Linked DNA regions of Homo sapiens: region 1 is linked to region 2. Evidence: fine-mapped expression QTL. A gene starts in region 2. The other region holds a variant in brackets. All regions are shown on one strand. Distances are between the middles of the regions.

Region 1 (15,653 bases), 58 kb before region 2:
GAAGAGACTAATACACAGAGCATTTGTATAATCACAGAAGGTTCTACTAGACAACACTAGTCTGGATTTTGATTTTGAATGCTTGTATTGATAATCTTTGTATTCTCTGCCCTTAGAGTAGTGCCTATAATAAGGTATTCAAAAATGCTTGTTAAATAAATAAATGAATAAATAAATAATGAAGAATTCCTTTATCATGTTAGATCTGCAATCTGAAAAATTTTTTTTCTATAAATTTTCAAGGTCTCTTTTTATTGAATGGAGAACACAGGCTTAAGAATTTGTTTTTCAAGTTTTAAGGGCCCAGTAGAAATGACTTTTGAACAGGGAGAAGGACTTTGTCTGGCAAACAAAATAAGGAAGGGGATCCAAGGAAGATGAACAGAGATAGGAACAAAACATCGGGTTTAGAGAAATTGGATGATTGTAAAGTTCATGGCAGTTAACTATTATTGAGCACTTACTATGTGCTAGGCACTCTTCCACATCCTTTACATATACTGCCTTACTTAACTTTCAGGGAATATTATTACATCCATGTTACCAGTGGGAAATCAGAGGCACAGAGAGGTCAAATGACTTTCTCAGGTAAGTCACTAAGTGACAGAGCCAAGATTCAAGCTCAGGCAGTCTGGCTTCAAAACCTGGAGTCTAAATCAATTTATTAGTAAGGCCACCTCTCCCCATGAGTGACAAAGGCTAAGAGATTAGGCTGGAGAAGAAGTGAGAGCAAATCATGATGGGGCTTGCAGGGTACCGGGAGGAGTTCAAACTTTATCCTGTAGCTCTGGAAAAAGAAAACTTTTAAGAAAGGAAAATAGCTTTGGATGTTTGTTTTAGAAATCGCACTGTGGCTGTAGGATGAAGGGTAGATCACAGGAGGCAGATGTACCACCACAGGGTTTACCAACTTCAAAAGCCAGCAGAAGACAAGAAATAACTAAGATCAGAGCAGAACTGAAGGAGATAGAGACACAAAAAACCCTTCAAAAAATCAATGAATCCAGGAGCTGTTATTTTGGAAAAGATCAACAAAAATAGATAGACCACTAGCCAGACTAATAAATAAGAAAAGAGAGAAGAATCAAATAGATGCAATAAAAATGATAAAGGTGATATCACTACTGATCCCACAGAAATAGAAACTACCATCAGAAAATACTATAAACACCTCTATGCAAATAAACTAGAAAATCTAGAAGAAATGGACAAATTCATAGACACATATGCCCTCCTAAGACTAAACCAAGAAGAAGTTGAATCCCTGATTAGACCAATAACAAGTTCTGAAACTGAGGCAGCAATTAATATCCTACCAACCAAAAAAAAAGCCCAGGACCAGAGAGATTCACAGCCAAATTCTACCAGAGGTACAAAGGTGAGCTGGTACCATTACTTCTGAAACTATTCCAAACAATAGAGAAAGAAGGAATCCTCCCTAACTCATTTTATGAGGCCAGCATCATCCTGATACCAAAACCTGGCAGAGACACAACAAAAAAAGAAAATTTCAGGCCAATATCCTTGATGAACTCGATGCAAAATCCTCAATAAAATACTGACAAACGGAATCCAGCAGCACATCAAAAAGCTTATCCACCATGATCAAGTTGGCTTCATCCCTGTGATACAAGGCGGTTCAACATACGCAAATCAATAAACGTAATCCATCACATAAACAGAACCAATGACAAAAACCGCATGATTGTCTCAATAGATGCAGAAAAGGCCTCTGACAAAATTCAACAGCCCTTCATGCTAAAAACTCTCAATAAACTTGGCATTGATGGAACGTATCTCAAAATTATAAGAGCTGTTTATGACAAACCCACAGCCAACATCATACTGAATGGGCGAAAACTGGAAGCATTCCTTTTGAAAACCAGCACAAGACAAGGATGCCCTCTCTCACCACTCCTATTCAACATACTACTGGAAGTTCTGGCCAGGGCAATCAGGCAAAAGAAAGAAATAAAGCGTATTCAAATAGGAAGAGAGGGAGTCAAATTGTCTCTGTTTGCAGATGACATGATTGTATATTCAGAAAACCCCATTGTCTCAGCCCAAAATCTGCTTAAGCTGATAAGCAACTTCAGCAAAGTCTCAGGATACAAAATCAATGTGCAAATATCACAAGCATTCCTATATACCAATAACAGACAGAGAGCCAAATCATGAGTGAAATCTCCCATTCACAATTGCTGCAAAAAGAATAAGATACCTAGGAGTACAACTTACAAGGGATGTGAAGGACCTCTTCAAGGAAAACTACAAACCACTGCTCAAGGAAATAAGAGAGGACACAAACAAATGGAAAAACATTCCATGCTCATGGATAGGAAAAATCAATATTGTGAAAATGACCATGCTGCCTAAAGTAATTTATAGATTCAATGCCATCCCCATCAAGCTACCAATGACTTTCTTCACAGAATTGGAAAAAACTACTATAAATTTCATATGGAACCAAAAAAGAGCCCACATAGGCAAGACAATCCTAAGTGAAAAGAACAAAGCTGGAGGCATCACGCTACCTGACTTCAAACTATACTACAAGGCTATAGTAACCAAAATAGCATGGTACTGGTACCAAAACAGATATATAGACCAATGGAACAGAACAGAGGCCTCAGAAATAATACCGCACATCTACAACCATCTAATCTTTGACAAACGTGACAAAAACAAGAAATGGGGAAAGGATTCCCTATTTAATAAACGGTGTTAGGAAAACTGGCTAGCCATATGCAGAAAGTTGAAACTGGATCCCTTCCTTAAACCTTATACAAAAATTAATTCAAGATGGAGTAAAGGCTTAAACTTAAGACCTAAAACCATAAAAACCCTAGAAGAAAACCTAGGCAATACCATTCAGGACATAGGCATGGGCAAGGACTTCATGTCTAAAACACCAAAGGTAATGGCAACAAAAGCCAAAATTGACGAATGGGATCTGATTAAACTAAAGAGCTTCTGCACAGCAAAAGAAACTATCACCAGAGTGAACAGGCAACCTACAGAATGGGAGAAAAATTTTGCAATCTATCCATTTGATAAAGGGCTAATATTCAGAATCTATAAAAAAATTAAAGAAATATACTAGAAAAAAAACAACCAACCTCATCAAAAAGTGGACAAAGGATATGAACAGTCAATTCTCAAAAGAAGACATTCATGCAGCCAACTGACATATTAAAAAAATCTCATCATCACTGGTCATTAGAGAAATGCAAATCAAAACCACAATGAGATACCATCTCACACCAGTTAGAATGGCGATCATTAAAAAGTCAGTAAACAACAGATGCTGGAGGTGATGTGGAGAAATAGGAACACTTATACACTGTTGGTGGGAGTGTAAATTAGTTCAACCATGGTGGAAGACAGTGTGGCAATTCCTGAATGATCTGGAACTAGAAATACCATTCGACCCAGCAATCCCATTACTGGATATATACCCAAAGATACATACCAAAAGACATGTACACATATGTTTATTACAGCACTGTTCACAATAGCAAAGACTTGGAACCAACCCAAATGCCCATCAATGATACCTTGGATAAAGAAAATGTGGCACATATACACCATGGAATACTATGCAGCCATGAAAAAGGATGAGTTCATGTTCTGCAGGGAAATGGATGATGCTGGAAACCATCATTCTCAGCAAACTAACACAAGAACAGAAAACCAAACACCGCATGTTCTCACTCATAAGTGGGAGTTGAACAATGAGAACACATGGACACAGGGAGGGGAACATCCACAATGGGGCCTGTCATGGGGTGGGGGGCTAGGGGAGAGATAGCATTAGGAGAAATACCTAATGTAGATGATGGGTTGATGGGTGCAGCAAGCCACCATGGCACGTGTATAACTATGTAACAAACCTGCACATTCTGCACACATACCCCAGAACTTAAAGTATAATAATTAAAAAAGTAGCTAATGCATGCGAGGCTTAATACCTAGGTGATGGGTTGATGGGTGCAGCAAACCACCATGGCACAAGTTTACCTATGTAGCAAACCTGTACATCCTGCACATGCATCCCAGAACATAAAATAAAATAAAATAATATTTTTTAAGAAGAAGAAAAAACTATACAAGAAATGATGAGAGTAGTGTGCAGGGGGTAGAGTGGAAAGGAGTTGGTGTGAGAGAAATTTGGATGTTAGAAGTGACAATATTGACAACTTTCTGATGTGTCAGTGAGGAAGAGAGAGGACTGGACAATGACTGGGCAGGTTTCTGCTCTGGGCGCGAAGTTGATGGGGAGACATTTTACTGATGTTGGGAACACCCAGGGAAGAACAAGTACAGATGGGGTGTGGGAAGGCAATAGGTGCTGGGTGTAATTTTTAGCTAGGTGAATTTGGGGGTGTTTGTGGGATGTTTAGTTGGAGATAACCATTGAATCTTTGCTAGTTCAAATCTGAGGCTCAGGAGAGGAGTGCTTAGAGGTTTGTATTTATTAGCAAAAAATTGGTAGTGGAAGCTGAAGAAAGAAAACACATGAGACAAAAAGTATGGAAAGAGTAGACTGTAGTACATCAGCATTGAAAGAACAGGTAGAAGAGGAGGCCGCAAACAGATGGAGAAGGGATGTTAAAGAGAGGAGGAGAACAGGGCGATTGCTGCCTTCTCTCAATGCTGGAGCATTTCTCTCTAATTAGCTGTTACCTTCACCTAGAATCCAGAACCCTTTTTTTCAAATGAAATATTTTTGTGAGTCTCAATATTTTAAACAGAAATAAGTATAGATGTTTTGGTTGAAGTGGGGTCAAGTGTAACCACATGTAACCACAATCTATGCCCTGAAATATTATGCTATCTCAACACATGTTTTTAGAATTAACTTTAGTTAATTTAAAGTCTTTATTTAAGTCTTTATTTAAATAATTTCAAGTCCTAATAATTCACTTAAATAGAGAAGTGTGTTTTGGCCAACACTATTTTTGAACTTTGATGATGATGATGATGATGATGATGACAATGATGTTCTTTTGTGGCTGACACTCTTGGTTGTCTAATAGTCTTTTTCTTGTCAATTGCATTTCTCATTTCTCCCTACTGTTCGACTTTTCATTGTTGGCAAAGTTCTGATTTGGTTTCCTTGTTTTCCTTTCACTGCTTAAGAAAAGCGAACTTCCCAGCTTCAAGGCATAACTGGTCTACATCAGTCGTGGTGGTTTCATTTCCTTTGTCAGTGATTTGCTTAGGAATGAATAGAACGTGTAACTCACTTTTGGTGTGTAGAACTGAGGGTAATTCTTCTGAGAAGTTTCTGGAAAGGCTTTTTTTTGTTTTCATTATTGAAAATAGCTGCATGGGGAAAACACACCTATTATTAGTTGGCTGTCATCATTGACTATGATATCTGAAATGTTCTAGCTTTCTTGTGACCATAAGGGGAGGCATTGCATACTGAGAATGGCACAGAAGAGAGAAGGGAAGAAGCTGGAGTCTTGAAGATGTTATTCAGTAGCTGAAATAACTGGCCCAAAGCTGCTCTATTCTTGGGCTTCTAGTTGTCTGATACAATAAAATTCTTTATTGTTCAGACCTCTGTTAGTTGAATCTTCCATTACTTGCAGCTGAAAGGATCATAATAGTTTCAACTCCTCTTCTGGCATAAAGGTTATGATCCTGAAAACCCATTCATTCTTTTATACATTTAATAAATATTAATTGAACATGTATATGCAAAGTGTTACCTAGGTGCTGAGAATACAGTAGAGAAGAGCACAGGTAAGGAGCTGTCATCAAGGAATGTAGTAAAAACAGAGAGAAACTTAGTGTGTCTGGAGCATAGTGAGTAAGGGGGAGAGAGTTATGAGGCTCAGTTAGAGAGAGGTGGAGGCAAAACTGTGCATGGTGTTGTAGGTAAGGTTGAGGATTTTGAACTTTATTCTAAAAACGGTGGAAAGAATTGAAGAATTCTAAATGAAGGAGATGTTACAGATTTGCATTTTTTAAATTGACTCTCTGGCTTCTGTGTAGAAAATGCACTGAAGAAAGTCTAGGATAGAGGCATAAAAGCAGTTATTTACGATTGTCCAGTGAGAGATGTCATTGGTTTGAACTAGGAGGTAGTCACAGAAATGGAGATAACTGTGTGACTTCAAGTTATAATTTGGTGGTAGAATTATTAGGATGTCACAACCAATTGGACCTGGGGAGTAAGGGAAGGATAATTGTTAAACTGATAATTGTTAAATTTCTGGCCCTGGGTAGAAGATGGTGCAATTTTTGAGATAAAGAACACTGGAGAAAAAGCAAACTGGGGTAGCATATGATACAAGAATTCCACATGCATGTTTATAGTGGCACAATTTGCAATTGCAAAAATGTAGAACCAGCCTAAATGCCTATCCATCAACAAGTGGATAAGCATGGAATACTACTCAGCCATAAAAAGGAACAAAATAAGGGCATTCGTAGCAACCTGGATGGAGTTAGAGACCATTATTCTAAGTGAAGTAACTCAGGAATGGAAAACCAAACATCCTGTGTTGTCACTTATAAGTGGGAGTTAAGCTATGAGGACACAAAGGCATAAGAATGATACAGTGGACTTTGGGAACTCGGGGTGGGGGGGGGAAGTGGGAGGGGGTGAGGGATGAAAGACTACACATTGGGTACAGTGTACACTGGTCAAGTGATGAGTGCACCAAAATGTCAGAAATCACCACTGAAGAACTTTTCTATGCAACCAAACACCACCTGTTCCCCTAAAACTATCCAAATAAAGATAAATAAATAGAAAAAAAGAGAAAAAAGATACAAGAATTTGGTTTTGAAAATGTTAAGTATGAGATAACTGTGAGACTTTCAAGTGAAAATTTTAAGAAGGAAAGTGGAGGTGCAAGCCTGGATCTTTTAAAAATAAGAAGCCTATCAGGAGATAAAGAATTTAAATTATCTAATACTGAATCAGTGTTAACAGATTTGTGATTTGTAGTCCAGCTTTCTGTGCCTGACAACTAAATACATGCGATTGCGAGATGTATGCTTATGAAGTCTTTCACCAGAGCTTTAGCCATAAAAAGGAGCAAAGTTAACAGAGAATTGAGCCTGTGCTCTAGGTCTCATGTTGGGCATTGAATAATGTGAACTAACCTGCATCTACATGTCACAGACACTCCTATTGACAAAACTCTCAAAGTACATCCCAAATTCTACTTATTTTGCTCATCTTCACAGCTACAGTCCTAATCCAGGCCACTATAATATTTTATCTGGACCAATGCCATAGACTTTTAGTGTCTCTTGGCAGAGATGCCAAATAAACAGTTGGATGTATGGTTTTGGGGTCAGGAGAGAATCTGGGGTTACAGTTCTAAATTTAGAGTCATTAGAATGAGAGGGGAGTTAGCAGGAATCAGGGCAGTATTCCAAGAAGGGGAGGAATGTACAAAAGCATAGAAGCATGAGATAGTGTTGGTCTGGAGAACTACAAGATGAAAAAAGAAACCAGTATTAGTTAAGTATAATTAGTCACTGAAATAAACACTTATAATAGAGAAGACAAGGAATCTGCCTAAGGTGACACGATTAGGTCTTTAAAAATAATACAGTAGATTGTTATTTAATCAACGTGGCTTAAAATATATATGGGTTGGGCTAGTAGTTGGGAGTGGATGAGAGAGATTAATACTTAGAAAAAAGGCTGATTCAGAGGCAACTATATGATCAGTCTTACATGCTACACAGAGTTTTTAGATTTTATGTTGTAACTTCATTTGCTTGCACAAATGTCAGAAGAAGCTTGAGTGATGATGAGAGAAACAAAATAATTCAAATCCAACAAATAACGATTAAGAACCTATTATGTACACTCTGGATGATACAAAGGGCTGTGGCCTTTGAGATGATTATCTGGTTGGGGAAATGAGACACTCCAACTAATAACTACAGTACAAGGTGGAATGTGAAGCCAGTGGAATTTAAAGTCAGGATACGTGGAAAGTTAAGATGTTCCAAAGAAGGGTGGGTGAAGAATGAAAGGCACAAAGAAAGCTTTTGTGAATATGTGAGTTTGTTTTCTGTGCAAAAGAAGGGGAAAGGACTGAAATTGTCAGGAGAGGGTGTGGTGGAATCAGAAAGAGATGAAGACTGAATTTTTTTTTTTTTTTGAGACGTAGTCTCGCTCTGTCCCCCAGGCTGGAGTGCAGTGGCGCGATCTCAGCTCACTGCAAGCTCCGCCTCCTGGGTTCACGCCATTCTCCTGCGTCAGCCTCCCGAGTGTCTGGGTCTACAGGC[A/G]CCCACCACCACGTCACGCTATTTTTTTTTTTTTTTTTTTTTGTATTTTTAGTAGAGACGGAGTTTCACGTGTTAGCCAGGATGGTCTGGATCTTCTGACCTTGTGATCTGCCCGCCTCGGCCTCCCAAAGTGCTGGGATTACAGGCGTGAGCCACCGCGCCCGGCCGAAGACTGAATTTTTGAGCAAATGAAAGACACCAACAAAATCCAACACATAAAGATTCACACTTGAAACAGATTAATCAGGGTAAGGTTAACTATGTTACCAAATAATGGTTTCGTGAAAGAATTAACTATAGAGTAAGCAGTGTGCTCTTTCCAAGGACAAGAGAGAATTTTATCTAAGAGATTTTCTTTATACAACTCTAGCTCTCACAGGAAGCAAGGTAGGTCCTCGTTTCAACCCTCCGCCCCCACCCCACACACCATCGGCACTTTCTTTTCTTCTTTGGTGGACACGGCTTTACTGCTGCATCTCATTTCCTGCCCAAAAAACAAGGAGCACACACAAAGTAGATTAAAAATGTAGGTAATGAAAAGAGATTAATAGCCTGAGCAGGTAGTTGGGCGGCTGCTTTGGGGGAAGCTGATCACTTTCCGTTATAGGCTAAGGTCATTGTGATAATGTTGGTCAAAATCTGCCCAGAGGAAGCAAACTGCTTTTAACTGTACTGCTGTTGGTTAGCAAACCATCATACTGGTTTTGTGTTTGTTTATTAATTCTCCATTAAATCTGGATAATACTGTTAAGCATAAAGCAGTAAGCTTAAAAATCAGAAATATTTTGGAATTTTCTCTGAAACCATAACAACATATCTTAAAGGGCAACAGAAAGCAAAATTGGGTTTGTCAAAGCTAGACATTTCTGCTAGAAAAAATTGAGATTTATAAGATAAACCAAAAAAGTTATATCTTGCTAGTCTGAGATTCAGAACAAATGGGAAAAAGAGTCTAAAGATCTTAGTACTCATGTAATAACTTATTCGATGTATATTAAACAATTTTTGCAGTAGTAAGACTTGCATTCTGAAGTGGTGTGTTTTTGAGAATACAGGTTTCTGTCTCTCCCCTGGCCCACCCCTCCCTACCATGAGCTTCAGAGATTGGAGGTATACTGCATTGTATGTGTGCATGTCTGTGTGTAAAGCTTTTGCTAAATTGGATTTTTCATTGCAATCTTACCACAGGATTTGTGGAATCCTTTCCAGATATGATATTACATTATTGTAAAAGCTTTACTCCTCTTATCTTTGTGGGCAGAAGGGTCACAATGGACTGCATATGAGGATTAAAATGAGCCTGCCCTGGAGCAGAATAAACCAAATGGATTACACAAAACATTTTAACAAATGCTGGAGGTCCTGGCTTGCCTTGATCTTTTACCTCTGAGATTTCAGAAAATGTTCTGAGACTATCGTTTGGAGGAAAGCAGAAATCAGATATAAAAATTCCAGCAGCCACAAATGCTGAACTTATGTAAAACATTGATCTCAGTTTTAGGAACCACTTAAGTCCTTTCTTTAAAAAATGGTAGAAATGTTCTTAGCTTTTTCTGCGTTGCGGAAATAGTGCATTCCAAGGCTCTGCCCTATGCTCTTCTCTTCCCTCTCTCTGCTTCAAAGGAGCTCATTTTCCTTCCCTGGTTTTCTTTGTAACTTGCAAGTGAGGGTCTGGGCAGTTTCCAGCCACACCTCTGAGCTGGCCTCACAACCCAGGGCCCTCCTACTACCTGTGGTGGCTCTAGAATTGAAGTTCTGGAACTGCCACTCATCCAGTGTGGCTAAAACATAGACTAGCCTCTTCGTTACTAAATTGTTATTGCTAAAGCTTTTGTGGGAAAGTATTAACCTGAGAGTATATTAATAGCAGGGTCTAGGATGAATATGATACTTTTCCTCCAAAACATTATAACCTAAGCACTATACTGGCTTGCTAGCACCCCAGAGAATTAATTAGTAAGAGCATCTCTTGCTACCTCCATTCAAAGAGACTGATGTTTTCTGTGTAATTACCCTATTAGTAGGTTATCGGTGATTAAAGTATAAGTAATTAAGGTATTATTAGTAGTAAAAGTCTTTTTTTAAAAAAATAAAACAAACTATAATGAACAACATTAGACTTTTAAAGTACGTAGAACAATTTATATAGGTGAGAGAAATAAACCTCTAATGGGGGAGAAAAAAGGACAAAGAAGAAAGTGGGGCTCTCTCCTGCTCTTCTGGACAGCTACATCAGGGAACCTAGAGAAGCTGATCCATTGTTCAGCAAAGCACATTAATGAGCCCTAGAACAGCAGTGATACACTCAAGCCAAGCCATAGGTAGCATAGAGTTACAGTGTTCTGCAAATTAAATAGGGGAATTGAATTTCCAGAGGACAGCTTGAGAAGCAAAGCATGAAGTCTTTAGGGAATACCTACTGTTTATATTTTGTTTTTCACACAGTACACTACTCAACCTTCCTGCCTTGTGTTTTGTGTAGAAATCAAAGAAAAGGGGTCACGTTTATTCTGATACAGAATTGGAAGGGCAGAGTGAGTGTGACTAGAAAAGACAAAGGCAACCTCTTTTATGATCTGTCTTTCCCCATCCTACCTCAGATATGGAGAATCCCTGGGGAGTATGGGCAAGGTAACACTGAGTGGGAGATGGTGATCAAGAAGGTGACTTCCTAATCTCAAAGTGCATCTGAGTTACACTTGGCTGTCATACCTGCTTGTTAGCATTCCCAAAGGGAATTCTAGAAAAGGTAGTGAAGATCATATTTGGAGGATAATCTTTGGAGCCACCCTGACCTGGGTTTGAATATTGGATATGAAAATATAGAATCTGTGTGACTCTGAGCAGATTTTAAGACTTTAAAAAATGTTTGACTCCTCACCTGTGAATTAGGGACAATGATTCCTTAGGATTTTCTACACACATGATCATGTTTTCTGTAATTAAAAGACAGTTTTAAATTTTCCTTTCTAATCTGTATTTATTTTAAAACTTATTTCACTTGTTAGGTCCTCTAGTGCAATGTTGAGTAGAAGTGGTGAGAGCAGATATTCATTACTTACTTAAAATCTTAGAGGAAGAGATAAAAACATTCAGAATTTCACCATTAATTATGATTTTGCCTACATGCTTAACATATATGTTCTTTTTCAGGTTAAAGTTCTCTTCTCTATTAGTTTGCTGAGAGTTTTTATCACAAATTAATATTGAATTTTGTAAATTTGTTTTAGCACCTAATGAGTTGATCATATGGTTTTCCCTTTTTATTCTGTTAATACAAGTTAAGCATCCTTAATCCGAAAATCCCAAATCCCAAATGCTCCAAAATCTGCAACTTTTTTGAGTGCCAACAATGATGCCCTGCCCCAAGTGGAAAATTCCACACATAAGTACTTAACACAAACTTTATTTCTTGCCCAAACTATTAAAAATATTGTATAAATTTACCTTCAGCCTATGTGTATAAGGTGTTTTTGAAACGTAAATAAATTTTATGTTTAGACTTGGGTCCCATCCCCAAGATATCTCATTATGTACCTGTAAATATTTCAAAATTCAAAAAAAAAAAAAAGAAAAAAGTGAAATCCAAAACACTTCTGAACCCAAGCATTTTGGATAAGGGATACTCAGCCTGTACAGTGAATTGAAGTTATTGATTTTCAGACATTAAACCATCTTTGCATTTCTGTGAACAATGCTACATGGTCATGATGTCCTTTCCTTTTTCTATATTGTTGCAATCAACTAGTTAAAATTTTATGAGTTTTTTGCATTTATGCTAATGAGGAATATTAGTCTATAATTTCCATTTCTTGCATTGTTTGGTTTGATATCATGCTAATGTTGGCCTCATAGAATGACTTAGGAAGTGTTCCTTTTTCAGCTATTTTTCTGGAAGAATTTGTGATTATTTCTTCCATAAATATTTGGCACAGCCCACCAGTAAATTCCTTTGTGTCTGGAGTTTTCTTTACGGGGAAAATGTTGAAGTACAAATTCAGTAGATAATAAATATTAAGTTATTCAGATTATTCTTGGATGAACTTTGGAAGTGTGTGTCTTTCAAGTAATTCAACCATTTGATCTAAGTTTTCAGTTATTGGCATAAATTGTTTACAATATCCACATATTATCTTTTAAATGTGGGTAGGAACTGTGGTTATATTCCCTTTCTCAATCCTGATAGGGATAGTTTTCTCTCTTATGTTCTTGATCAGGCTGACTAGAAATACATTAATTTTATTGACTGACTTTTGGTTTCATTGATTTATCTTTATCTTTTTTTTTTTGAGATGGAGTCTTGCTCTGTCACCCAGGCTGGAGTGCAGTGGTGCGATCTTAGCTCACTGCAACCTCCGCCTCCTGGGTTCAAGCGATTCTCCTCCCTCAGCCTCCTGAGCTGGGATTACAGGCACCTGCCACCGTGCCCAGCTAATTTTTGTATTTTTAGTAGAGATGGGGTTTCACCATGTTGGTCAGGCTGGTATTGAACTCATGACCTCAAGTGATCTGCCCGTCTTCGCCTCCCAAAGTGCTGGGATTATAGGCATGAGCCACCACACCTGGCTCTTTTTTGTTTTTATTACGCTAATTTCTCCTCTTTATTATTTCTCTTCTGGTTACATTGAGAAGGGTATGCCTCAGGGTAGAGAAATTCTTCAGTACATTCTGATATTAACAATTCCGTTTGTTTTCCTCTGCCTGAAGCCATCCCAATTTATCCTGCCCCTCAGGGAACCTCCCTGTACCTTCGACTCAGGCGCTACTCTTTTCTAACAGATGCCTCCCACAGCTGTAATTAGGAGGCTATACAGTTTGGGGGAGTGGTGATGAGAGATTGGCCCATCCTGGAGTTATTGGCTTGCTAGTGCAGCTGGCTATTCCCAAGGTGGTCCTACTGATTGAACATCCAGAACATGTCTGGAGGGAAATAGGTTCTCACAGCCTTTTTCCTATCCATAGTGCCTGACTTTCTTGTGCTCTTGGCTGCCATTTCCTACCACTCCTGGGTCCCAGATTCTATCTTCCTAGAGATTTCTCCTGGTTTTTGCTTTTCTGTGTTTTGTTGGTTTCTTCCTGGCATGTGGGCATCTCTAAGGCTCAGTTCAAAGATGAGAAAACCAACACTTTGTGTCTTCCTTTCCCCCAGCTCCCTTTAGAAATGTTCTTTTCTTTGCATCTCCGCTTCTGCTCAGGTGTTACTCAGGCTGTATTAGAGAATTTAATTTTTCAAATGGGTCCTTTGAATCTGAAGAGTCTACTTAGTATTGCAGAATCTTGGTTACATTGTTTAGCAATGGAGGGTGACTTTAATTGTAGATAAGGAGAAATTCCACTAGGTGCATATTCTTTCTACTAGAGAGATGTTTTATCAGTTGTTAAATGAATAATTAGAAAAAAACCTTTCAGGTTGTTTTACAGTGTGATTTGAGAAAAGAACAAAGTGTCAAGTGTGCACTAAATTCTATAGGATGGTCATTATCAAAATAATAGAGCTAGAGATATTACATCTTTTTATTTTAAGATTTCAATGAAATAGTCTAGATTCAAGATAAGGCTCCGGAGAAAAAGAGCGAATAAGAGCCTTCACTGTAACATGCAAATAAGCTGTCTTGAGTGGTGGCAGAGGTGAAGAATGTTGGCAATTTGGCTGATTTTGTTTCTTTTCTGGAAGGGAGGATTTGGTCATGTGAAAACACCGTAAAAGAAAACAGTGTAACTACAAATCATGTCTTTATGAGAAACAATGAAAAACCTATTCAAATCCGCTTTCTTGCTACATCTTCTCTGTACTATGGAACTTCAAAGTGTAATTACTGGGCCAAACAAAAACAATGAATTAAAAAAAAATAAAAAGCCATATACCAAGACAAACATACTTCCCAGAGGTTCCTAGCTTATGTATAATCCGCACTGCTTCCACACAATAAACAATTCTTTGGGTTTTTTAAAGCTGTATTAATATTAGAATAAATTCAATATCCCCAGAGAATAATTATTTTCCCTTAACGAATAATAATAATTATTCTGTGGCCTTATATGGCCACTTTTCCCCCAAAGAACTGATGAGAGTGTTCTACTTCTATTACACTTTTGTGTGTATATTTGTGATTTTATTTCTATGCTATATTATTAAATGAAATTGTTTTATATATATATATATAAATAAAATCTATGTCATTCAGATATTTTTGTGAGGCTAGAAAACATCAAAGGTCTGCTGGGCTGTGTTGTCCTGGTCAAGTTTAATTCCTTGTGCTTCCATTTCCTCATCTGTAAAATGGGAATCATCATGCTTAACACATGGAGTTTTTGGAAAGCTTGAGGGAGATTATGAATGTTAAAGTAGGTTTTCAAATGGGGTGCAAAATACAGATATAAGTTGTTTTAATTATTCATATTAAATGATTATTAAAATAATAATTATTATTGGAGAAATATTTCTATCACTTTCTGAATACTCTGAATTTTTTTAGAACATCTCTACTTGGACTCAATGGAATCGTTGTATCAAAATTCACAATGTAAAAGCAATTTTTTTTTAAACATTTAGCTTCCACAGTTAGCTTCCTTTTTATTTCTCAGGGTTATATCTACCAATGAAGGGTGGAAAGAAAGAGAAACCTCGATGCTACATCACATACCCGGGACCAGTCTCTGGTGTGTCAGTCTTTTCAGTGTGTTCAGATCTTTGAAATGTCTTTCTTCATAATTGACTGTCATGCCAACAATTTGTTTACTTTTATGGAATTTATCTGATTTAAGTTGTTCTATCGTCAAGACTCCAGTTTAGACTTAAGATAGTGTTGCAGACTATCATCTTACCACTCCTTGGCTTCCATATTTGTAGTTTGTGTGATTCAGATGGTCCTCCAGGTAGCATATTTGTCCTTATCTGTGACCATTCTATAAAGCAGGGGTCCCTAATCCCCGGGCCATGGACCAGTACCAGTCTGTGGCCTGTTAGGAGCCAGGCTGCACGGCAGGAGGTGAGTGGCGAGCCAGCAGCATTACCACCTGAGCTCTGCCTCCATGCCATCAGTGGCAGTGTTTGATTCTCATAGGAGCACAACCCCATTGTGAACTGTGCCTGCGAGGAATCTAAGGTGTGTGCTCCTTATGAGACTCTAACTAATGCCTGATGATTGAAGTGGAACAGTTTCATTCCAAAACCAACCACCTCTCCTCCATAGGAAAATTGTCTTGCACGAAACGAAACCAGTCCCCGGTGCCAAAAAGGTCGGTGACCACTGCTATAAAGAAAGCACCCTGAAGACCAAAGCCAGTCATCTGTCTGGAAAGTTAAATGTGGTATAATCCTTGAATCTGTTTATAGGAAAAATGGCTTTTAAAATATGCCTATACCAGTACTGGCTTTATTTTGT
Region 2 (15,653 bases):
AAAATGAACTGTGGTGGAGCTTGGAGAAGAAAATAGAGAGGACTATGTATGGCCGGAAAACACAGGAAGAAGGGAGACCAGTTGGAAGGCTGATGTGGAAATCCAAGTAAAAAATGACGGGGCCTGACCTGGAGCAGAGCCAACAGAGAGAGTGAGAGGTGGATAGTTTAAAGAGATATCTGGGAGGTTGAATGAATAGGACTGGATGTGGAGTCGGGGGTAGAGAAGTGTTGATGTTACTAACTTGGATAACTGGGTGGATAGAGGTAGCTCCTGAGATAAGAAACACTGGAGGGGGAGAGAGTTTGGGCAGGCTGCAAGATGATTCATTTGTTTTGAATATGTTAGAGATTCCCGTGGAATTGCCAGTCAGTCCATGGGTATGGGTATCTACAGTTGCAGGAAAAAGATCTGTGTTTTGGAATTCAGATATTTGTGGATTTCTATGTATTTGTATCTGTCTCACTGGGGTTAGGGGCAGCAATCTCTGTTTTCAAACACATGAATATCTGTGCAGCAAGACATGGTCAATATCCACAGCAGATGGGATAAAAAAAAGAGTACAAATAGCCACCTAACAGTTCAGGTCAGGTTTTATTGGCAAATGAGTTTGTAAAAAATTTATGAAAAAAACCCGTAGGATATCAGAGTTTTCTATTTCAGAAAGCTGGATGCAAGATTCTCCACCTGTACTATCTCATTTAATTCTTACATCAACCATATGTGGTAGGCATTATTAATTTTTTTTACAGAAAAAAAACCCTGAGGCACAGATAGGTTAATGAAAATGCATGCTGAGATTACAGCATCAGTATTCAAAACAAGTCAGTCTAAGGTAGGAGAATGTTTCAAGAAGAAAGGATTAGTAATAGGCTCAAACGTCATAGGTGGGTAAAGTAGATTAGCAATGAAATTGCCTCACTGGATTTCGCAATTTAAAAATTACCTTTGGGGAGGCAACTTCAGGAAAACAGTTGAAAGGAGGCCAATTTGTTGGGGGTTAAGGAGTGAATAGGAGGCAAGAAAGTGGAGACACCTATCACAGACTTCTCAGAAGATTGACCATGAAGAGATAGGAGAGACAGAGCCAAATCTTGAGGGAAATAACAAGTTAAGAAAGCATTTTTAAAGCATGTTAAATGTCAAAGTGAGAAATGAGGGGACAGTCAGCAAAATGAGGTCTCCAGAGGCCCAAATGAATAGGATCCAGATCAGTGATGGAGGGATGGTGAGAGAAATTGCTTTCTATTTGTTTGGAAGAAAGAAGAAAAGGAAGAGAGAGCAATGGCAGGAAGTCTAAGAATTGACATCATGACCTGTTTTCTACGAGTGATCTTCTGAGACTGGGAGGTGAAAAAGTGATGACTGAGGTGTGAAAAGAGACAAGATGCTTTGAGAAAGCTACAGCAGATAATGGAAAATGCAGCTGATCAGGATGTACAGAAGGATTGGGCTGTATTGAGAAGGTCAAGTTGAGTTAGGAGGCCTTCAATTTATGGTGCATTAGTCTGGGAGGTTTTGTGGTTCTCTTCTGGGCTGCTCAGCAGATACAAGTACACAGAAACTCACAGCTGCATGTAATAGAGCCTTTGTGGGAGAGGTGAAACTGAAGGTATGATCCTTGGGAGCTGAGGATTTTCATACAGTATTGAAACCCCAGAGATTCCCATAGGATGCAGCCTTGTTCTAGGTCAGTGGTTCTAAACCTTGATACATATAGAAATCACGGCCGCGTGCAGTGGCTCATGCCTGTAATGCCAGCACTTTGGGAGGCCGAGGCGGGCTGATCATGAGGTCAAGAGATCAAGACCATCCTGGCCAACATGGTGAAACCCCAATTGTACTAAAAATACAAAAATTAGCTGGGTTTGGTGGTGGGCACCTATAGTCCCAGCTACTTGGGAGGCTGAGGCAGGAGAATTGCTTGAACCCAAGAGGCGGAAGTTGCAGTGAGCCGAGATTGCACCACTGCACTCCAGCCTGGTGACAGAACAAGACTCCATTTAAAAAAAAAAAAAGAAGAAGAAAAAAAGAAATCACCTGGGGAACTTTAAAAAAAAATAGTAATGCCTGTGTCTCATCCTTTGGAATTTTGATTTACTTGGTCTGGGCTGTGGCTTTGGGATTCTTACAAAGTCTCCAGGTGACTGTAATGTGCAGTCAGGATGGAGAATTATTGTTCCTCTGATCTCCTGTTCCCAAAGCAAGTTAATAACCTGTACCAGCCAGGATAGATAGACTAGGTTATGGCACAGTAACAAATAGTGCTGGATTGTCAGTATCTTGACACAACAAAGGTTTATTTCCTGCTTATATAATGTCTACTGAGGTCTAGGTAACACTTTTGGGCAGGTGTTCTCCTTGTATTTCTTGGCATTCCCTAGTCACTGAGGCAGGGGAAGAGGAAGATGAGAAAATAAGTCCTGGTTCTTAGATGCTCACTTGGAAGTAACACCCTTTCCCTCCATTCCTATTTCATTGACCAGCATTAGTTGCATAGCCACACTGATTTCAAGGAGCAGGAAAAGGCAACTGGATATTGGTGAACCTTAGTAGTGACCACTATCTAGAGCCTTCACTGTAAATGAAAGTTGAAGGGGAGGAAAAGGCTCATGTATTTACTTTCAAACACTTACATAGTGCTTATTACCTGTCAGATATTGTCTGCATTGCTTTCAAGTAGGAACTAACTTAATCTCCATATCAGCACTATTAAATAGGTAATTATTATCCCCATTTTATAGAAAGGGATGTTGTGCTTAAATAACCTGCCCTGGGTCATATAGCTAGTAAGTGGGAGAGGCAAGATTAAATTCTAGGTAGTCTGGGTCCACAGTCCAAGCACTAGGTCTCTCTAGTCTGCTTTCTCTCAACTTCGATCCTGAGTTGGGGGGAGCAGAAAGGAGGAAAGGTAGAAGATATGGGTGTAAATGTGAGATTTGGTGCATGCAAAGAAATTTAGTGATGTTTGTATGCTTCACTGCTAGAGCTGGGATAGGGCTTTGTGGAAAGGCACGCAGTGAAGTTTAGGGAGTTAAAAATGGAATGGAGTGATGCTGCTGCTAGTGAGGCCAACCTTGGAGGCCATGATAGGGAATCACTTTTGCCCCTTTCCTTTTTTCCTTCTTCCCATCCCTCCATCAGAGCCACCCATTTAGCATCTACATACAGGTTGTAACTTGGAGCTGTACTGAGGTTTGCTCAGAAACAGAAAGCAGGAAACAGGATAAAAATTTCCCGAGAAAGTAGTGCTTGGATCATTTGCACAAAAGGGATCAAAGAGTAAGTCCAACTGTACCTATTTGTAATGCATTTTTGAAAATTTACATATAATTACAGCTACTGTCAAGTAAACTATATTAGAAAATCTTCAGAGGAGGGGTATTTGATAAAAGAGTCCTTCAGTGAATCAGTAGTAATTCCAAATCATCACTTCCTACATCAGTTTTCTAAGCCTTCTCGTTTATATTGGTTTCGGTTAGACTAGAACACACCTGCAGTTCACTCAGCCAGCTTCCATTCTGCTGTGATTTAGGAGTCAGTGAACACTTCTGGGGATTGGAATTCTTGGTTATCACAGACAAGGTCTAATTACCATACCTGGAGGGACAGAAGAAAAGAACAAATGATTCTGTTTTAAAATGGACTTTTGACAATATAACAAAACGAAGCTTTGTCTTTGTGTGACATTGAAGCTTTCTAATTCCTATCTCTCTCATCTGTTAAATCTTGAGGTTTGTTCCCCACATACGGAGTCTGTAACACACTTTTAAAATGCTGTATTAGCACCTTGTTGCAACTGGCCAGCATATTCCTTAGGGCCAGTCAATCTATATGATGCTGCTACTCTATTTTCCTTGACTCTATTTTGATTGGGAACAGTTGCAAGTTGTTGCCAAGGGTTTCTCTTCTTTCATGGGCTGCAAAATCATCGATGGCAATAGAGATCCTTGATGTTGCTGGTTGTTACCACACTAGCCTAAGATTAGGTTATTTTCTATTATTTACAAGGAGCTCTGGCTACAGGGTCAGGAGACCTGATTTTAGTCTCAGTGCAGACTGTTCTAAAGCACTGTGTCATCTGGGACAGGATATTTCATCTCTCTGGGTCTTGGTTTCTTCCTTTATAAAATGAAAATTTAAACTAGAAGATTAAGAAAAGTGTGTAACCTTTTGACACTACACAGCTACATTTTTTATGATCATTAAAATAATCCAAACGTTATAATGCTATGGAGTTATTAGAAACAAAGAAGAAAGGATAAATGTCATTTAATTGAATCTGCAGATGGGAATAAGAAAGTTCTACCAGTAATTTTGTGATTGTGTCTTAATGGAGTCCAAAAGAATTTCCTCTTTGGGAAATGTGAGTTAATACACCCACAGAGGAATGATTAGGAACAAGAATATATATACTAGATGGGAAATGCTGAGAACCTGAGATTTTAAATCAATACCCATAGGCGAGATGTGGGCAGCTGACGATGTGCAAAAGAACATATAGATTTGAAATATTCTCTGTTAATGATGATGGAATTATTATAGCATGCTAGAAGTCTAGAATAGCAATCAATGAATTATACATGTTTAAAAAATAAGTCTGTCTATTCACCAACCCAGCCAATGAATGACTGATTAGTTTAGGATCATTTGAACACAGGTCACAAAAGAATCGCTAGAGTGGGAAATTCAATTATGTGTTTAAGGCTGCTGTGGTGATGGTGGTTTCAGTTCTTCCCACCAACTGCAGGGAGGGAGTTGTAACCTGGCCGTATCTCTTGAGTGCTGCTGTGGCAAGCTCACTACGGATCCAATCTGCACCTGAGTCTCTTGTTATTTAACTAAACACACCTGATGTATTTAAAAGACATTTTAACTGTAAGGGGATAAGCTCCATGGCCAGCAGCACTTCCTGTGGAAAGCTAGAATAGCCTAGTGTTATTCCACCGAGTCTCTTGATTTTTTTTTTTTTTTTTTTGCATAAAGATTTTTAGCGGAATAAAATTGCCTCGTGTCAACCTTCTGGGTTTGCTCAGCTGCCTGGTCTCTGAAAATTTCAGAGAGGGAAAAAATGACCCCAAGGTAAAGGCTGGATCCTGGTTTTGCATTTAGCTGCTTCAAGCAGTAGGCTTACCCAGTTGGGGAGAGGAGAGAAAGGGAGAGAGAGGTGGGGGGAGAGAGAGAGGTGGGAAGAGAGAGAAAGGGGAGAGAGAAGGGGAGAGAGAGAGGGAGGGGAGGGGAGGGGAGGGGAGGGGAGGGGAGGCAAGGAGGGAGAGAGAGAGAGACAGAGACAGACAGAGAGAGAGAGATCCTGTCTTGAGGTCAGTGATTAGTAATCTAGGGGGTTCCAAAAGGGGACAGGTGCTGAGATGTGTACTTCCACCCCTGCCTGGGGATTCTCCCTGCTTCTGGTAATCTGACCTTGATAATTTCTAACGCAATTACCTCTCCTCTAGCACATTCTGACCCCAGCAAAAGGGGACGCACCCATCCAACTATCTTTTCGCCTTCAACACTGAAGACTTCGCTCTACCACCAACCGCTGACGCCGCGGCAGTGCACTTTTGGTCCCCCACTCTTTGACCCTGTTTGCACAATCGTCCTTTCTCGACAGGCCCAGGTGCAGCCCCCAGAGAAAAGAGGAAGCCTTACATGTATCATATTTACCTGGAGGGCTTGTTTAAACAGATGAGTCAACCCAATCCTCAGAGTTCCTGGTTCCCTAACTCTGGGGTAGAATCCACTAATTTGCATTATAAACAAGTTCTTAGGTGGTGCAGATGCGGATGCTGCCCGTCCAGGCCACTTTGAGAACCACTGCCTTAGATCAAGGAAGGTGCCTCAGTGCGGGCTCCTCTTTCCTTTCCATCTCTCTCCACCCCTTTCGCATTTATGCCATTTTCCTTTCTCTGTGACACATTCAGGCTTTTGGACTGTTTGTAACGGTGCCGCTGCTGTCCGTTCTCAACGCCTGGAAATTGGGGGGTTTGTTAGAGGTGATTCGTGCCCTGCTCCACCCTGGCGCATCTTCGCCCCCACAGCCTTTACCGTTTTTCCATCGCTAACACTGCCCTCCTCACTCCCCCTCTCTCGGGTGTGAATTATTCACCCTCTTCCCCTACTCTTCACATCAAGTGCAACCTTTCCCGCAACTTTGCAGCGGTGGCGGGCTCGCGGATCGCCTCCTGCGCTCAGCGGTCCTGGGGGAAACTCCCCTGGGCGGCCGCACGCTCCCCCAGACGCCAAGCCCGGCCCGGGTCGCAGGGGCCATTCCGGGCGCCGGCTGTGCGCTCGGACTTCAGGGCTCGCGCTCCCGCTCCGGGGTGGGGTAAGGGCGGTGCGGAAAGCGCCAGTGTTCAGGAAGGTTTCAGGCGCCGGAGCCCGGAGGGGGGCGGTAGCAGCGTCAGGTGGCTGCTCTGCGTCCCCGCGCGCCGCCCAGCCAGTCCCTGCCCTGCTCTCAGCCTCGGCTGGGGCTGGAGCTGGAGCCTGCCCGCACCTCCGCCCCGGGAGCCGCGTCCGCGCCAGCAGCCCGGATTCGGGACCCGAGCGGGAGACGCCGAGATGTGAGCCTCCGACTGGCCACTGCTCTCTCTGGCACCCTCTTCTCCCATTCCACCGGCCCGATTGGACAGCGATCGCTTGCCTCGATCTCCGGGGAGAGGAGCAACCACCAGGCGCACAGCCCAGAAGTTGGGCTACGCTGTTCAGCCCGGAGCTCGCTGCGCGAGGGGGTGGACGAGGAGACCGGGAGACGAAGGCGCGGGGAAGGGGTCTCGGTCTGAGCTGAGGGGGATTGGGAGGGTGGGGGCTTGAGTTCCCGCTTGCGCTCCCCAGCAGGGGGAGAGATGCAGAGCCCGCGCCCAGGCGCCGGCCGCCGCGGTAGCAGCCTCAGCAGCAGCCTCAGCATCAGCACCGGCGGGACAGCGACAGCGGGGGCGGCGCAGGCGCACTGTGCCCCGCGGAGCCTGCAGTTCCCGAGCCCCGTGTGCGGCACCGCCACAGTCTGGGCAGCGGCGGCCGGGGGAGCGCTACTACCATGAACTGCCTGGTCCTCCTCCCCAGAGCTGCTCATCCGGGTCGGGCTGGAGACACAGTCAGGGGACCCCGTCGCCGCCGCCGCGCCCCCTCTTCTTTCGGCTCAATCTTCTCTTCCACCTTTTCCTCCTCTTCCTCCACCTTCTTTGCCTGCATCCCCCCCTCCCCCGCCGCGGATCCTGGCCGCTGCTCTCCAGACCCAGGATGCCGGGGGGCAAGAGAGGGCTGGTGGCACCGCAGAACACATTTTTGGAGAACATCGTCAGGCGCTCCAGTGGTAAGGAGAGTTGTAGTTCAGAACACCCCCACCTCCATCCCGCCCACACGCGCCCCCCATCCTCCCCATCCCATCCCTCTCCCAAGGGGGGAGGAGGATGCAGGCAGCCTTACCTGGTGGTTTCATTTACCAGTTGGGCTGGATTTGGGGTGGGGTGGGGTGGCAATGAGATGGTGGGGGAAAGTTAGTTGCATCCCCTTCCTACCAGACAGACTCACCCCCTCCCACCTGTCCAGAGCCCAGAACTGGAGGAAAGAAAGGGGTTGGATAGGGTGTAGGTACATCTGGAACATAGAGTTGAGTTTTGCTTTTATCTTTCTTGTTCTTCCTTCTCCCACATTTTTCCCCAAAGTGAGCAGCAGGGACTGACCAAATTCTGAGTTAATCTCAGTGGAAAGGTTTCCCTCAAGTTGGGAATGGCTGCGAAAGTGGCTACTTAACAAGATTTAAATCTCTGGAAAGGCTTTTGGCCCTCGTGGTCACGGGGAAAGGTGCTTTGTGCCGGGGAGAGTAGTTGAGGTTGAACCTAAGAAAGAGTTCAGTGCTTGCAAAATGGGAAGCCAATTACTGTGGACAAATTGGTGCTTCAAGTTTCTTCTTGCTATGTTTTTCACTGTACATTCATCTATATATTTCGTTTGACTTAAACATGAGAAACGTAGAAGTGAAGCAGTAACTATTGTGCTTTTAATGCAACTAGAAAAAAATCAAAAAGATGCCATCCTACCTTGCTACTGGCGTTAAAGTTTTCTTGCCTTAGTGTGTCTTTAAAATACCATCCATTTATACATTCATTTCCTACAAGATATTTTGGATGGGAATGGTTATATATTTCCACATTTTAAGACCTTATAAACTTTGCATCTTACTGAAATCTGCGTTTTCTACTTGTTTTTAATTCTTTTGTATAATTTTAAACTTCATAAGTAAGATATGTTGAATATCTTTTTAAGTTTTTCCTTCAGAGGCTGTTATTTTGACATCTCTTGCTTGGAGAATAATGAGAAAGACATTTCTGTATATGGAGTACAGTAGAGCTTGGAACAAAGCAATGGAAATACTCTATGCAGTTCCATAGTGCCTTGTTTATTCATTCATTGAAACAATATTTATTTGGGTGCCTTATACCACAGATACTCTGTGGTTTCTTGGGATTAAAAAAAAGTAATTAATACACATCCCCTCTTCTTAAGAGGCTCCTTGCCTAGTTGGAGGCACAGGGAAAGACAGAGGTACACTGAAATATCAAATAATTAAATAAATAATGCTTTCCCTAAATGGTAGATTAGATTATACTAATTCTTAGATTAGAATCTCTTTTAAGACTAGGCTTGTAAATATTTCCTCTGATTTTGAGACTAACTGTATTTAAGTGTTTCAAAGTATTTTCCCCAAATATCTGACTTGTTATTTGTTTTTAATTTGAGGTTTTAAACTTTATTTCTTCGTTTTGGCCAATGCCTGAAACAATAAAAGTCTAAAGCAGTAGTGTTGTATTTGGGTCGGAAAAAATAGCGAATAGGGTCTGGCCTAATATTCTTTTAAATACCTGTATATTTTTTAGTTATATAAATTCATAATGGTAGGCAATTTTTATTCTTATAGATTACCTTCTTGTATTAAGATTATACTAAACCTATAATACAAGGGGATATTACTCTTAAAACAGTTTGGGGAAAATGTGTGGATTATTGGAATTAGTTAAGTATACAAGTCTTCTTTCAGCTTTCTCATCCTCTTGGGTTATTTCAACTTCACGCAATTTGGTCTATGAGAGAACTTTTCAGAGAAGGCCTTAAAACATAAAATCTGCAGGGTTACGATTGCTCTGCTTTATAAAGAGAAAGAACATGAGAATCCCTTGACTAAACTTTATTAATATAGCAACTGTGGTTGAAGCTTCTTATGCAGACTATGAAACTATGAGATAGTTTTTTGAATTTTTAAAAATTGTAGATATACTATGAAATAAAGATTTACCTTAGGTGGCTTAGAAATGTCTGTTTCTGTTGCCTCCATTTTGTATCTACCACTCAAATTAATGAGTATTTTATCTTTTTTACACTTCATGTTCATAATCGTTTCATTGGTTAAATGTTTCTTTCCTGGACAATACCAAGTGAAAATGAAAATTTATCTGTTTTGGCACTTAAATGCCACCTCTAATCGCCTATGGCTAACTTTGAATACCACTACTCAAAGACCCTGAACTGTTTGAAGTGTGTTAGATAGTTGTAGTGAGTATATATGCAGGTGTGTGTGATAAATACTGAAAAGTCTCAGTACCTCTTTTATAGGCAGAACCTCAGAAATTGAGAATTATGGTATTAAATTGGTCTACACATTCACGGGGGAATATCCCGCAGTTGTCATTTCTATATGATTTGGCAGAGAAATAGAAAAATTTATCCTGAGAAATTGTTTAATTGAGACTAATAGAAAATTCCCTTCAGGATTCTCACAGATGGATCAGGTTTGTCACTTTGAAGGTTTCATTATTCACTAACTTAACAACATTGAAAGTGAAGTGTTGGCAGAGGTTTAGCAGGAAGAGAAAGAATAGCACCCAGCACTCCCAATCTATTTAACAATTGAAGAAACAGAGGCTGGCCTTGTCTTTTTACCTGAACCCCAAGAAAAGCTCTTTCTGATACAATACCATTTTCTTCTTATGAAAAGGTCAGATCTTACAGTGAGAGTCAGCCAAACATAGACATAGATATAGAGAGATACCCAGATAATACACAGTCACATAGGTAAACACTCAGCTGGTCAGGCATCCACCCAGAAAACTGAAAAGAGGAATATCCTACTTCTTCTTTTTTAGGATTTGTCTGTAAAGTGTGTCCACCACCCTACAGACAGAGAGGAAGCAATCTAACTCTTTTTCTCTGTCTTGCACACAAGGAGCAAAACAGAGATGTAGGAAACAAAACAAAACAAAACACACAGAGCAGAGAGAAAGGGGTGGGGTGGGAGAGAGAGAGAGAGAGATTATGGGACATGCAAGGGAAATGGACACAAAGAGAAAATGTCAGACATTTATTTGTCCATGGGTATCACCAATGAACTGAAATCTCAGCCAGTTACAAATTTACCAGAACATTTTTTTGATGATGTGAAACAAAAAAGCAAGAAGTGTGGCATATTTGAATATCAATTTTATACCTGAGGATTTCTTAATAAAGTTCCAAACTCCTCAGATGCAGTTTCCCAGAATACCAGCACTGTATTCTGTACTCCAGAGTGGCAACTATAACCTATGCTATTATTTCACACCTCTTGAGACTGGATTTTTATTTTCCTTATTTAGTTGACTCAGTCTGTTATAAGCGAGCATTGCAAGTTGTTACTGGTGATTCAAAGTCTATAAAATAAAATAATGAGGGCCATTGAGTAGGATGGATACACACACCCTTTATAGCCAAATCTCAAAAGAAGCAAGGAATTCTTTTTAGTTTAAAGATAAAAGATAAGATCATTTCTAGACAAAAGGAATTATAATAATTCTTAGCATGTGATTCTAGTAAATATAGAGAACATTATTACTCTAAGAAGTTGTAAAGTTTAAAGTATAAATGCTATAGGACGGCTTAGACAAACTTTTGGCTAGTACGATCAAAATAAGCCATTAGTAAGGGAAGGTTTAGAGGACTATGTGGTGAGTTCATTACAGCTGAGCAATGTCTCCCAGAAGGCCCCTGCCTCAAGGGCTTACAGACTAGATTTGTGTCTAGAACATTATTAGGATACCTTCCTTTATTTAAATTTCAATTATTTATGCAAACTATTAATCTAAATTGGGCTCTAGGGAGCAATAAACTTGTGGGTAGAGGTTAAGTATCTGGAAGAAAGTAACTGTTTTTAGGACTTTTAGGTTAAAATTTAGATTCAAAAGACAAAAAATATTTCAAAGACCTTCAACCTGATTTTGTCTTTGGGCAGCACATTTTACTCATATGTTGTCTTCAATTCCTTAGCAAATAGGCAGACATGATTAGTTTGAGTGACAGTAAGCTAGGTTGCTATTTTGAAAATTTTAACTACAAATTAATACCTTTTAACTAGAAATTATTATTATTTAATATTTTAAGCTTTATGACAAATTGGAAGTTTATTTTAGTTTTGTGGAAAACTAGAAGTGTTTTTCTTTTTGGGGAAAAAAGGGGTTCAGGAAAGAAGAAAACAGAGAAGGTAGTATTTTATGAACCACTTACCTTTCAAGAGAAGAAACTCAGTATCCTCAATTTTTCATTCTGCTTGAGATAGCTGGTTGCACAAGCACTTTTTTTACTCAGCTATCTCTTACTTGTAGAAAAGTCCAAAATTATTTTCATGCTGAATTGACATTTGTACAAACTGAGGTCTTAAAAGAAACCTATAAGAGAGGAAGCAGAACTAGTGATCTGTAAACAAAACAAAAAAGGAATAATAACTTTTACAATTAGCCAATTTAAAAGAAATAATGGAAAACAAATGGACATTATTTTGGTTGTTGTTGTTATAAAGTTATTGACATTTTTTCTTGAAAGGTTTTCTTTAATATCTAAGACACTATTCAGGAAATACTGATAAAACCACACAGTGTTTTTGAAGCACTGGTTTACTCAGGTCTTATAATGTACCACTTTAACATTTAAAATATCAAAGAGGTTGAAATTATACTGACCACTTCCTAAATTATATTTATACATAAGCCACAAGATTGTCCCTTGCATTAGATTCCCACACTGTGTTATATAATGAATGCAGCACATTGCTGATAGAGGGATGCTTATTCTAAGATACTGTTATCTTCACTAGAAATTGCCCTCTTTGTTTATCTTTTGCTTGATTCCAGAAGTAGGATGTGTAAGACATCCATCTACCTAGGCACCTTGTAACTGACTTACTAAAAGGATCATATAAACATTATTTTTAATAGAAGGGCGTAGTTATGATTATTTTAATTGATAGCGACTGAGTAGATTTCCTAAAGAAGCCCTTTAGTTTAGTCAGTGTTTATCTTTTTCTTTCCTTGTGAGTCACAGCCGAGTTTCTTAGCTTGGAGGAACAATGCTTCTGCATTCTCCAGAGTGTAGCCTAGGAAAAGGTTGTGCTGTTCACCAAAGTACTGTAGTTAGTATTTACCACAAGAGGTCACTCTGGGTTCTGTCACAGGTGAACCAAGTAGTTAATATTTTTCTCTTTTTCTGTTCTCCCACCTCCCCCTTCCCCCACCTTGCTTGCCACCCCCCAAATTTGACTGGGAGGGAGTCAATGTAGTTAGTTGGTGCTCTTGGAAGAAAATATCTAAAATGTAAGACATGCAGGAAAGTTAAATGAAAAAAGGTATGTATTATATTAATTATTAGAATTTATTTTAGTTGACAGTGATCAACATTTTATAACTACACGAAAGTGATACTGATAAAAATTGTTTCTGTAAAGAGATGGATTTAAATACATTTTAGACTAATAGAGCATTTTCTTTAGCAGATAAAATTTTATGGTAATACGCAATTTCAGCATTTCATATACATACAGTATATGAAATATAAAGTCTTGCAGAAAAATGACCTGTACATAATGCTTCATATTGAGCCACTTCAACAGATTTTTTCTCTATGAGACATCTTTATATAATTTATATTGAATTGGTGAAGTAGAATCAGTTCATAACAGTGCTTTAATTTTATCAAAAGATAGTTTACAGATTTATAGTTACTTCCTCAGGATGTTATGTAATCCTAGTATTTTATTTTTACCCAAATTTTAAAAATTAAATACAGAGCTAAATTGTTTAAAATTATTAAATAATATTTTCAAAGTTTTTTAAATTATTAAACTCCAAAAGACAGGATTGGGAGTAGACTGTTTTAAGAGGTTTTGTTTCCTCTTAGTCAGTAAATCTGAATTTTGGTTTAAGGCAATTCTTTTTTCTTTTTGGTGGGTTAGAAACCATATAGCAAGAGATACTTTGAAATGTTCCACACAATTTTGGTTTTAATGGGAAAAATTGAAACATGTCTTAAAGTACTTTTATAAATACAAGAGACGTGTTGTGAATCAGATAAACATGGATAACAAATCACAATCCAAAACCAGTGGCAATTATTGTTGTGGAAATTGAGGTCAAAGAAAGTAGTGTTCTAGAAAGTATTCTAGAAAATGGACATTTATGAAACAAATTCCTTTACCAATAGCAAAGCAGAATGTAAAAAAATCCTCAGCATTTTCCACTAAATAGTCTAGCTTTATAATACATGACATGAGTCCTTTTCATCATTTAAAGATAATTAAAAAGAATCATTTAAATATTCCTATTTTATATAATATAGAAACTAATATATTAGAAAGGCTGAGTCTTGAAATATATTTGATCAAATGGAGGCAGTAATAACTATTGTCACATAGATCAGTGTGTATTTTAGACATCATTTTAGTGTTTGGTTATATGTGGATACTATTACCTAGTAAAGAGACATATTTATATACATTCTAGATAGTAGTTTTGTGATATATTAGGTTGACAAAAGAAAAAAGAGGAAAATTAATGAGCACAGTAATTTAGAAAGAAAGTGTGGTTAGAAAGCTATTGGAAATTTTATTGAAAATAGATTTCCCTCTCTCTTTGGGTCTGGTCCCATTACAGAAATATAACTATTAAGTACAAAGTCATATGGATCTCAAAAGATACGCAATTTGAGATCTGAGCTTATGTGCATAATCATAACAGCTTGTAGATATAAGGACATATAATTGGGAAGTCATGAAAATTTTGGTATATGAACTAAGCTCCCTGAGGATATGGGTCATATCTTAAAAAGACTTTTATGTCCTCCACTGTGCAGAGCACATAGCAGTAAGTATTCGTTGAATAAATGCTTTTTTGATTTTTGTCTCCTAAAGTAACCAAGACCATAATTAATTCTTTCCCCAAGCCAATGCTGATTAAATCTATTAAGTGAGCTTGAATAAGTAATTACATAGTTTAAACTATTTAGTTAATCAATGCATATATCTGAAAACAGAAACCACACTGCATAGGGCAAATCAGATGGTACTTCTGAGAGGATGAGAAAGGAATATGAAATGGATCCCATGTTCACTTCCTATTCCAAATTGAGGTGCGGCTGAAATATTTTCTACCATTTTTGTTTCAGTTGTCAAGAGCTTGAAAGCTGGACTATTTAATACCAGAAAGAACTGCTTAAAAATTTGTAGATTCTAACTAAATTATTTTAACAACTTTGCAGTTAGCAGTTATTGATGGTGAGTTTTATCCCTGGGAATCAATCCTTACCTGCTTAAGTACCTTCTGAGTGAGTTTTGCCTTGGGGAGCAGCTTACAGCCCTGTGCAGTATGCAGCAGAAGAGGAAAATGAGTTTTAGATTTTTAGAGACTGCAGGGCCAGCCTCAGGTTGCCATATCTAACTAAAAATCGAACAACTCACTTGGATTGAGGGGAAAAGTTAACCTTTGTCCTGATCTTTTCTGTAAGCCCTTTTTGGTCTGCTGGCATTTATTTTTATTTTTTAAATTTGGGGGAAAATTAAAGCACAATGATTTTATTTTTATACATTTACAAGCATTGAAAAAATAGAGGAGTTCCTCAATGGGGGTTAAAGAGTCTCAGAATAAAGACTCCGAAATACAACGCTGATCCTTTTGCTTGGCTCTCATGCCCTTTCTAGTTAATTATCCATTAATGCAACACCATTTTATTGAGTACCTACTATGTGCTAGGCAGGGATCTAGCACTAGGGATTCATAATGAACACAGTGACAAAAACAATGTTTCTCCTGTTTTTCTGTGGAGGGCATGTGCATATTTATAAGTTTCTAGAGGCCTGTATTAGAGTCCTGGCTCTGACACTTACTAGCTCGGTGACTTAACTTACTTGTACCTAGTTTCCTTATCTATAAAATACAAGTAATAATAGTACCTAGTTTATGGGGTTAGAGTGAGGATTAAGTTAGGCAGTACATGTAAGTACGGAGAACGGTGCCTGGCACATAAATAAGCATTATATCATGCCAGTAGTTATTATTATCATTTAGTTGTTTAAATATTTGAATGCACTTTCTATAGTTGATGTTTTTAATTCTTAGTCACCATTTCCTTCTGCACCTCTTTTCAACTAATTTCCGCCTCCTCCATAATGCTGAAAATTCCTAGAAAATTATGAGTGCGCATTCTTCTCGTAAATCTTAAGATCTTTTCTTGGTCCATATTTTTTCTGACTTTGCAAGGTTTGAAACTATATTCCCCTACCCTCTCCACCATTCATCTTATAGCTATCATGAGCTTACAAGCCCTGCTGCCCTTTCTACTGGCTTCCCTTTTTGTTCCTCTCC

Which allele goes with the higher level. Alleles are on the strand shown, and positions count from the first base shown. SD is a standard deviation of normalised expression in the study named.
For the expression in testis of the gene that starts at base 6,968 in region 2, A is the low allele of the variant in region 1 and G is the other (moderate effect, 0.47 SD a copy in GTEx).

What was found. PIP is the estimated chance that this variant, and not a neighbour inherited with it, causes the effect.
Region 1: its variant is fine-mapped to the expression of KCNH5 in testis (GTEx, PIP above 0.99).

Annotation. Positions count from the first base shown.
Region 1 is chr14:63,094,663-63,110,315 of GRCh38, reverse strand. No RefSeq gene overlaps it. Among named protein-coding and RNA genes, the nearest start is that of KCNH5, 57 kb to the right of the region's middle. The variant A/G (reference allele first, on the strand shown) is at 8,269.
Region 2 is chr14:63,036,773-63,052,425 of GRCh38, reverse strand. KCNH5 (potassium voltage-gated channel subfamily H member 5) reads left to right here and starts at 6,968. Exons shown (of 11, transcript NM_139318.5): 1 at 6,968-7,312. The coding sequence starts at 7,240. RefSeq lists enhancers at 6,700-7,203, 7,204-7,707.